Homo sapiens: one gene and its partners. The protein of the gene in region 1 purifies or fractionates together with the protein of each later gene. This does not show direct contact. Each region holds a gene or a part of one and is shown on either strand. Other genes may lie near its edges.

Region 1 (3,500 bases):
GATCACCTGAGGTCAGGAGTTTGACACCAGCCTGGCCAACATGGTGAAATCCCATCTCTACTAAAAAATATAAAACTTAGCTGGGCATGGTGGCAGGCGCCTATAATCCCAGCTGCTCGGAAAGCTGAGGCAGAATTGCTTGAACCCGGGAGGCAGAGATTGCAGTGAGTCAAGACAGTGCCACTGCACTCCAGCCTGGGCAACAAGAATGAAACTAAGTCTCAAAAGAAAAGAAAAGAAAATGTGAAACATTCTTAACTTTCTCTTTTGGCTGGCCTGCATCAGTTGAGAGTTTGTGAATACCAGCCTTGATTTCTAGACTTTCTATTGTGTTTCCACTTATCTACATATTCTGATGCCAATACCCACCATTTTAACTTGACAGTCAATTTTAATCTTGGGTAGAGCAACCGTCCCACACGCTATTCTTCTTTTTCTTTTTCTAAGATGCCTTATACTAATTTATTCTCCCAGATAAACCTTAGAATTATTATTATTATTATTATTATTATTATTATTATTGTGATGGAGTTGCACTCTTGTCGCCCAGGCTGGAATGCAATGGCGTGATCTTGGCTCACTGCAACCTCCGCCTCCTGGGTTCAAGCAATGCTCCTGCCCCGGCCTCCTGGGTAACTGGGATTACAGGCACCCGCCACCACATTCAGCTTTTTTTTTTGTATTTTTAGTAGAGATGGGGTTTCACCATGTTGGCCAGGCTGGTCTTGAACTCTTAACCTCAGGTGATGCCCCTGCCTCGGCCTCCCAAAGTGCTGGGATAACAGGCATGAGTCACTGCACCCGGTCAGAATTATTTTATCAGTTTTACAGGTGACCACAGTTGTAATTTGACTGAAATCGTATTAATCTGGAGACAACTGACACCTCTACAATCTCCAGCCTTTCTCCCCAGGCCTACTGCACATTTCTCCATTTACTCAAACTTAACATGATTCCAAATGTTTTCATCATTGACGCAAATTTCTGGGTGCGTTTCTTCCCAAGTACTTTACATTTTTAAAAAATTGTTCTGGCCGGGTGCGATGGCTCATGCCTGTAATCCCAGTACTTTGGGAGACCGAGGCAGGTGGATCATGAAGTCAGGAGATCAAGACCATTCTGGCTAACACTGTGAAATCTCGTCTCTACTAAAAATACAAAAAATCAGCTGGGCGTGGTGGCGGGCGCCTGTAGCCCCAGCTACTCAGGAGGCTGAGGCAGGAGAATGGCGTGAACCCGGGAGGCAGAGCTTGCAGTGAACCAAGATCGCGCCACTGCACTCCAGCCTGGGCGACAGAGCAAGACTCCGCACCCTCCCCGCCCAAAAAAAATTGTTCTTATGAAGTGAATAAAAAACAATGTCTAATTGCTTGTTGCTTTTATACAGGAAACTACCATTGTGTCTATTATAAATAGCCCCCTCATTGTATTTTAATTTGTTCTATGGTTGTTCAGTTGGTTATGGTCTCTTCTTTTTTTTTTTTTTGAGATGGAGTCTTGCTCTGTTGCCAGGCTGGAGTGCAGTTATGCAATGTTGGCTCACTGCAACCTTCACCTCCCAGGTTCAAGCGATTCTCCTGCCTCAGCCTCTGGAGTACCTGCGACTACAGGTGTGCGCCACCACGCCCGGTTAGTTTTTGTGTTTGTAGTAGAGACGGGGTTTCACCATGTTGGCCAGGCTGGTGTTGAACTCCTGACCTCAGGTGATTTGCCTGCCCTGGCCTCCCAAAGTGCTGGGATTACAGGCGTGAGCCACCTCGCCTGGCCGAGTATTCTCATACATATTACATACATTATGGAAAAAAAACAAAGGGCTCATGTCCAAGTTTGGGAAAAATGATTAAGCAGCTTTATTTTCACTCCTGGACTTTTTGGAAACTTCGAACAGTTAATAGAATGTGACATTCTCAAGAGTGGAATGCAAACTTTCTCAAATTTGACTACCAAAATCCTCTCCCTTTTTCTCTCTGCCTCTCTTGATCCCTCTCTCCCTTCCCCCACCCCCCTCTTTTCTTTCTTTAAGTATTCCATAGGATCCCTTTTTTTTTTTTTTTTTGAGATGGAGTGTCACTCTTGTTTCCCAAGCTAGAGTGCAATGGCGCAATCTCGGCTACTGCAACCTCTACCTCCCAGGTTCAAGCAATTCTCCTGCCTCAGCCTCCCGAGTAGCTGGGATTACAGGTGCGTGCCACCATGCCTGGATAATTTTTTGTATTTTTAGTAGAAACGGGGTTTCACCATGTTAGCCAGGCTGGTCTCGAATTCCTGACCTCTGGTGATCCACTTGCCTTGGCCTCTCAAAGTGTTGGGATTATGGGCGTGAGCCACCACGCCCGGCCAGGGTTCCTTTCCTTTAGAGGTCTTTTTGGGAAGTTCAGCTCTAGTGTTCCATTATTTCGTGCATTGCTCACTACTGATGTGGGATATGCATTCTTCATAATTAAAGAAGTACCACCCATTATGCCTAGCTGATTAATTATTTTATGGGAAATAGATATATAATTTTACCTTCTTTTGGGCATCTATCAAGATGTGGCTTTTTTGCTCTGACATATTGATGTGATAAATTACACTAATAAATGTCCTAAATATAAATCACCTTTTCATTCTCGGAATAAATTCTACCAGTTCATGTTTTAACACAAGGTTGGATGCTATGTGTTGGTGTTTTACTTTGGATTTTTGCATTATCAATTTGTAAGACAGGCCACTGTTTCTTTTTGTATTTTTTAAATCATTTATTGTATCAGGGTTGCAATGAATCGGGAAGCATTTCCTTTTTTTCTATGATCTTGTAACATTTTAAAATTAAATCAGCTTTATTGAGGTATAATTTAAATACCATAAAAGTCATCCACTTTAAGTGTCCAATTTGCTAAGTTTTGAAAAAATATACTCAGTGGTGTAACCGCCCCGGAATTGTGGTACAGGATATTTCCATGTCTCCAACAGTTCCCTTGGGCCCCTCTGGAGTTATTTCCTCACTTCCTGCCAACCAATGGATCTGTTTTCTAACACTATATTACCTTTTCAAGAATTTCACACAAATGGAATCATACAGTGAGTAGATACATATTTTGTGTATTTTGTGTCTGACCTCTTTGACTTTGCATAACACTTTTGAGAAGCACCCTGTTGTTTATATGAGTTGGTTAATCTGTTCGATGGATGGATGTACCAGTTATTTATTTATTTATTATTATTATTATTATTATTTTGAGATAGAGTTTTGTTCTTGTTGCCCAGGCTGGAGTGCAATGGCGTGATCTTGGCTCATCGCAACCTTTGCTTCCCGGGTTCAAGCGATTCTCCTGCCTCAGCCTCCCAGGTAGCTGGGATTACAGGCATGTGCCACCATGCCCGGCTAATTTTTTATATTTTTAGTAGAGACATGGTTTCTCCATGTTGTCCAGGCTGGTCTTGAACTCCTGAGCTCAGGCAATCCTCCCGCCTCCGCCTCCCCAAGTGCTGGGATTACAGGCATGAGCCACTGTGCCCGG
Region 2 (3,273 bases), on another chromosome or scaffold:
ACATTCAAGATGCGTCGAAAAAGACTGTTTGCTATGAGGCCACAAAGAGCAGCATTTAATCCAACATAAACCGATCCATTTTCAAGTAGATTCCTGAAAGGGTGAGAAGAAAGAACTTTTCTTTGGCATTATTGTGTGTGTGAGCTTTCCCGATCTTGACATGTGTTATAGGACTTTGGGAATACACTAACTGGATACGACATCTATCCCTTATAGAACCAAAATCTTAAAAATTGCTTTATATATAGGTTTTTGCTCTTCTCCCAGCAGCCAGTGGGTGCCTCTCCTGAGCTCCCATAATAATTAATACTTAACCTCTCTAGCACAACACATTACAAGACAGTACTATCTTATATAATCACCGATTTACATGTCAGGCTTCTACACTAGTCTTTAAACAACCAGAAGACAATGGATACAAAGATGTATTCAGCCTGACACAGAAGATGTTCAATAATGTGGAGTTAATGTGATTTCTTTCACTCTTCCCTGAAACATTAGTGTCAGGATTGGGAGTATTAACATTTAAGCAATACCCTATGCTAGGTACTTTATAACAACCCATTGATGAGAAATAAACTGATGTTTTCAGGTAGTGGTAGAACTGGATTTGAAGCCAGGTTATGTATGAACTTTTAACTTATGTCCTATGCATTCTTTAGTTTTGGGAAAAAGTAATACCTAACATGATTGCTGAATATTGAAAATACTGACTCCAAACTTTTCAGACTACGACTTAGCTTTTTTACCACTTACATTGCCATCTACAATACAGTCTTAAGATTTTCATTACTCTTAACTAGCCAAAGTAGCCACAGAGTACCTCCTCTAACTTCTATGGCTTACACTCATCTTAAAATAGCTTTTCTAGGAACTCAGCTTCCTACGTTGTATAAGGTATTGCTTTTCTTATCTGACACTTTGCAATCATGATGCCTGTCACTCATTGAGAACCCCACTGTATGCAGCAGACTTAGTGCTAAAGGCACAAAAAATTACCTTCTATCTTCAAGGTTAACATAGTTAAATATTACTGGAGAAGAAAGAGATGTAAACGAGATATAACAGAAGTCTATGAAAATGGTAATGGTGGTACAAGACAGTGGCAGTTCAGGAACTTGGAGTACATAGATTATAATTAGTGATGACAGTCTGGAGAACCTACCAACCACAAAAACCATGTAAATGTGAAAAGCCTATTTTTTTTTTGTGGGGGTTGGAATAAAAAACTTGAACACTTCCTCTAAAATATTTCATCATAAAAATCATGTGAAATGTATATTATCCCCATTTTAAATCCCAATGCTCAGGTAAACAATTTGCCTGTATGTATATATAATATATATAAAATACATATATACATGTTATATATAAGTCCATTTGTTTACAAGTATGTTACATATACAAATAAATAAAAAGTAGTACAAGTGAAATCTGCATAGCAAACTTTGCTCTCTCCCAACCAGATTTTTCCCATAGCTAAGGTCAAAATGTTTAGTTAATTAAAAGTTAGCACAAAATTGTTACCTAGCAGCCCCTTGCCAGTTTTCCAAAAAAGTACCTATACCAACTAAAAACTCATGACTTTTTGATAAGACATACACAAGAAATAGACATGAAATAGCCCAAATTTAACAAATGACAAACATGTACGTGAAAGTATTGCTGTAGATCAGAAAATGAAGTTTTTGATATTAAGAAAGCTCCATACACTGAAGGACATGCCAAGTAACCATTAAATACCTGATTAATAATCCAAGAAGAAATGAAGATTTAAACTTAGAAAATAAAATGGGAATGAAGAGAAAAAATAGGAACAAGGCAAAGATAACAGGACACTGTAATCTGCCTAGTTTAGATGCCAATGATTGAAACATTTATTGCCTCTAAACTAAATTTTACTTTGCAGTTCCAGGTATTCTTTCTAATTTGGTAAAGAACCCAGTGACAGACTGCTTTCTTCTCTTCAAAGCTGCCACCATCTACTCTTTTTTGAGACAGTCTTGCTCTGTCGCCCAGGCTGGAGTGCAGTGGCATGATCTCAGCTCCATGCAACATCCGCCTCCCAGGTTCAAACAATTCTCGTGCCTCAGCTTCTCCAGTGGGTAGGACTACAGGCACGTGCCCCCACATCTGGCTAATTTTTGTATTTTTAGTAGAGATAGGGTTTCGCCATGTTGGCCAGGCTAGTCTTAAACTCCTGACCTCAGGTGACCAGCCCGCCTCCGCCTCCCAAAGTGCTGGGATTACAGGTGTGAGCCACCATGCCCAGCCTACTACTCTTTTATTAGTCTTTCTCACTTTCCCTATCTTGCTGGCCTGGAAACATGGACATAGTTCCTTTTTTGCTTTAAAAGGTTTTCCGTTACCTCAGGAAAACAACTAGAAGGGAGTGGAGTTGGAGTGTGGGGAGGGGGGGTGAAAGAGCTTTTAAGATCTCACCAAGTTCTTACTACTGGCCTTTTTTTTCTTCCCCTTGGAGATCCTTGTTCTGAACACTACTGGTCTTGATTTATGGGTTCTCCCTGATTAAGATGGTAAGTGGCAGCAAGATGGGGATTTGTTCAGTTTCTATTCCTGAAGATAGCAAGATTATGCTTCCAGAATGTATTTTAAATGCATCCTCTTTTCATCTCAGCTGTCACCACCCCTACCATCTCCACTCACCAGGATTACTGTGCCATTTTTTCTACTGGTATTTGTGTTTCCTTTCTTTCCTACCTCAAATCTGCTTTCCAAAAAGCAGCTGGAATGTTCTTTAGAAATGCTAACATCATCCCCCTGCTCAAAACTATTCCTGGTCCTTACTCCCACTTCCTTAGTACTTCGGTAACAATGGTTACTCAAGTACCACAAGCCTTGGCTATCTTGTGGCTAGGCATATGCCATTCCCTCTACTTAAGACACTGTCCCTCTCTCCTTCCCAGGTGGCTGCTTTTCATCCTTTTATAGTCAGAGAGACCTTCTTGACTGTCAACAAAGTGTAAGACATTTTGTGGAAGTACACATTAGCTGCCTGGCAAAGATTAGTATGTTCCCTATATTGGTTTTTCTCTTTAATATCTTTTTTTTTTTTTTTTTTTTTTGAGACGGATCCTCACTCTTGTCGCCCAGGCTGGGGTGTAGTGGTGTGATCTCGGCTCACTGCAACCTCCGCCTCCCTGGTTCAAGCAATTCTCCTGCCTCAGCCTCCCAAGTAGCTGGGATTACAGGCACCTGCCACCACGCCCAGCTAATTTTTGTACTTTTAGTAGAGATGAGGTTTCACCATGT
Region 3 (3,835 bases), on another chromosome or scaffold:
TAATGTATAAAGCAGATTTTTACTTTGAAAAAGAGAGAGAGATGATCTAGTTGCAATGACTATTAGAGAACCTGGACCACTGCCTGTCCCCACCTCTCATTCCCACCACTGTACAACTTGACTCCCAAGAAGTACCATAATTTCTTTTTTAAAAAATCTAATTTATTGCCTTTGTTTTATAGCCAGAGTTTCTTTGAATGCAGGAGAAATAGAAAATTAATGTAGCATCCTTGGAGATAAATCCACTTTCTCAAATATGGCAAAAATAGTCTTTAGCTGTGGATTGCAGGGTGACTGCAGGGGATCCAGGGGAAGGGAAGGTGTAAATATGAGGAAATTGGTCTTTATGCTGCCCCAAACAGACATGTATAAGTATTAGTTAACATCATAGTGTAACTGACCTACCATTTCTAATACCCTTCCCAAAGAAAACAAAACCTGTGAAAATGGGCATATTTCTCTCAGTAGAAAGAATTATTAGTGCTGATGTGAAATAGTTTTATGTGGATGCCTTGTAAGGTCTGCAGCCATAGCATTTTTCCAGGGAATTCTGCAAAATAGCAATGATTTGGATAAGCCACCTGTAATCTGATAGGATAGTGTCTCTAAAGGAAGAAGCTGGTTTTCTTTTTCATGGATTATCTGGAAATCAGCTGGAGCCTCCAGAGCCTTCCCAGGATGCCTTTCAGTGATCTCTGGACAAGGGAAATGGAAGAGGGACCAAGACCAAGGAATCAGGATTGACGTTAGTTACCCATCTGAGAACGTAGTCCCAAGGCCAGGTTTAGTTGTTACTGATGTTTTTTAATGATTACATTGCCAGTAAGCTCTTAACTTATAATTGCCGGGGACCTGAGGCTCCCTCAAGGTGGTAACATATTTATAACGTGCTTTAATGCTCTTTTCGTCCTGAATCCATGACTGAATGTGTAATTTCCTTGTCCGAAGACTCATCTTGCCCACTTACCATCCTAGAGCATAAGGGCAACTCTCCCTCAGGAAGAAAATAAGTCTGCGTGCCAGTGGTGCCGATGACCAGCACATTTTTCTTCAAATCGATGGAACATTGATGTCTCCGGAGCATATCTAGGCCTAGAAGCATATCCATGGGTTGATCCTCAAGTATGGAGAAAGAGCACTGTAAGAAATCACCTTCAATTTGAATCTGAGCTAGATGAACACGGCCAATAATTCTCTGTGTGCCCACTCCTTTAGCAACCCCAGCCCACCGTCGGTCCACCAGCCTCATGATGTTACATCGCTCGGCACAAGCCTGGCTCATAATGGTCATCTGGGCGCCCGAGTCAACAAAAGCCTTCAAAGGATGCCCATTCACTTTGCAGTTAATGTAGAGCATCGTCACTTGTCCAAAACTCTCGGGGGCCTCTTCTATCGCTATATTCATGTTTTCTTCAATGTTTTGCTGCCGGATTTCCTCTTCTATTTTGGCCTGAGCTTCCCGATCCAGTGGGTCGGCTGTGTAGAGACGAAGCCTCTCTTGCTCTCTCAAGGCCTTTTCCCTTTGCTGCTCCATCAGCACCTGAGAAAAGGTCTCAAGGCTTCCGCTGAGCAGGGCTTCCGCCAAGGGAGGGTTGCGTTCCTTGAGCAGGGACAGATCGTGGGGGTTGGAGAGCAGCATGCTGCGGATCAGGGCGGGGCTGCCCAGACCTTGCAGGCCGGCCACCTTCTCTCCTGACGCCAAGCCCTGTGACCGCTGGGCAGCGGGTGTGCGCTGCTGCTGCTGTCCAGGGTGCTGTGGACGGGAGCTGGACGTCCCAGGCACCGCAATGCCACTGAAGTCTACACGAGGCTGGTTCGGGGCACGCCCTGGAGCCCGAGGTCCCACATTGTCCTTCTGCAGTAAAACCACGATATCGCCATCTTTGAGGCCGTAGGAGCCCAGGGAACAGTGGTCCTCGATGAGGAGTCGCTCCATGTGGATGATCTGGATCTCTTCGACGGGGACTCTGGACTCCGCTTCGCAGAGGACCTTGAAGTTTCGGAGCTCAAAGTCGGGGCTGACCTGGAGAGAGAAGGTGACCTCGGAGAGGTCCCTCCGCACGCAGTACACGGTGATCAGCATGGCGGGGGCCCGGGCGGGCCGGGCTAGCAGAGGGCATGGGCGGCTCACTGGCGGGCTGGGGCGGGCCTGCGTCGTTGGTGCCGCTGCTCCTCAGGACTTGGTAGGTAGGGACCGTCCGGGCTCATTCACCTCTCAGAGAGGCGCGGACACTCATCTGTCTGGGGGCTGTCTCCCAGCCTCAGTGCCTGCTGTGTGGCCAGGTGGAGCCTTGAGGTAGCACGTTGTGTTCCAAAGTCCATTTCTAAGTGTGCTGTTTGGAACCTAGAATGCCTACTCCCATGGATACACGATGGCTCAAAGCTGTCAGGTTTCAAGGCCAGCCCTTCAAAGCCTATTTAACACATGATATGAAAGAAATGATTTCAACACATTTTTTTTTGAGACAGGATCTTATCCTGTCACCCAGGCTGGAGTACAGTGGCATAATCACAGCTCACTGTAGCCTCGACCTCGTAGGCTCAAGCAGTCCTCCTCTCTCAGCCTCCTGAAAAGCTGGAACTACAGGCACAGTCTACCATGCCCGGCTAATTGTTGTATTTTTTTTTAATAGATTTGGGGTCTCACTGTGTTGTCCGGGCTGGCCTCCAACTCCTGGGCTCAAGCAATCCCCCACACTTCGGCCTCCCAAAGTGCTGGAATTACAGGTGTGAGCCACCATGCCTAGTTTTTCAACACTTTCTAAACAGCATATTATCATTTGTTTTGTTCATTTTAGAGTTGTATTCTTTGTACTTTTGTTTTTTCCCCAAACAGTAAGGATTTGTTTCTTACATGGCAAGTACCATTCTATGTGCATAGTAGGAAAGTCAGATTTGGAGCCTGCCCTTGAGGAGCTCACATTTCTGGAAAGGGATAGACAGGTGAATGGGTAATCACAATACTAAAGGCAAAATCTTTTACAAAGACATGTTCAGGGTACTGCCTTTAGTATCACCAACAGAACAGAGGATATTTTCCTAAGGAGGAGACAAGCTGGATGTTGAAGGATGAGCATCTTCCAGGTGCAAAGTGGTCTCACTCCAAAGGAAAGCAGTTTCATGTTACAAAAGCAGGAATTTATGGCAAGGGCTGTTATTTCTAGAGAAAGATGAGACATTTTGTGCAATAAAAAAATTGTACATGACTTTGAATACCAGGATATGAAGCTGGAAAAAAATTAGTTGAGCCAATTGATGAAGTCATATGTGAATCTACGGAGTTTAAATATTAAATATTATCAATTAGCAAGAATTCCTCCTCCAAAAAAAAAAAAAAAAAAAAAGAAAAAGAAGTAAGGAAGGAAAGGAAAGGGAAAAGATTTGAAGCAGGTGTTTGTGATTTTTTTTTTTAAATTGACTTAAGGAAGAGGCTTCTTGCAACACATGGAGGACATAATGTGGCAGGAGGGCCAGTCAGGAGGCTTTTCCAGTGGTTCAAAGAGGGAGCTGTTGCTAGAGTGTGGAAAGTCAGGAGGCCCAAAGCCAAAGCAGTAGAGAATAAACATGTTTCTTGAGTAAAATGGACAGAGTGTGCATACCCCTTGGAGGTGGGGAGTGTAAAAAAGTGGAATGTGTGGATAACACAGAGGGTCTCTAAAATGGGATATAGGGTAGATGGGCCATTGCCTTGAAGGGGAATGAATGAATGAGTGAGATGAACCTTTGAGGTGACCCATTTGACATCAGTTCTGTAGGAAAATTCATTAAGGATGCCACCCTAGAGGCCAATATGCCTCTCTCTGACATTTGGGCACAGCCACCTTCTCCCTACTCT

The links.
Region 2: the proteins of SFXN1 (region 1) and TMEM126A fractionate together in Homo sapiens (co-fractionation; one large-scale study listed by BioGRID). This does not show direct contact.
Region 3: the proteins of SFXN1 (region 1) and DDI1 purify together in Homo sapiens (affinity purification with mass spectrometry; 3 studies listed by BioGRID and IntAct, with this or other methods). This does not show direct contact.

The regions. Positions count from the first base shown.
Region 1 is NC_000005.10:175,502,560-175,506,059, reverse strand, and holds part of SFXN1 (sideroflexin-1), read right to left. Parts: intron 1-3,500. UniProt on the Homo sapiens protein: Amino acid transporter importing serine, an essential substrate of the mitochondrial branch of the one-carbon pathway, into mitochondria.
Region 2 is NC_000011.10:85,650,883-85,654,155, reverse strand, and holds part of TMEM126A (transmembrane protein 126A), read right to left. Parts: intron 94-3,273; coding exon 1-93. UniProt on the Homo sapiens protein: Protein required for the cotranslational protein quality control in the inner membrane of the mitochondria.
Region 3 is NC_000011.10:104,035,071-104,038,905, reverse strand, and holds the start of DDI1 (protein DDI1 homolog 1), read right to left. Parts: upstream 2,267-3,835; 5' UTR 2,084-2,266; coding exon 893-2,083; 3' UTR 1-892. UniProt on the Homo sapiens protein: Probable aspartic protease. Seems to act as a proteasomal shuttle which links the proteasome and replication fork proteins like RTF2. Required, with DDI2, for cellular survival following replication stress.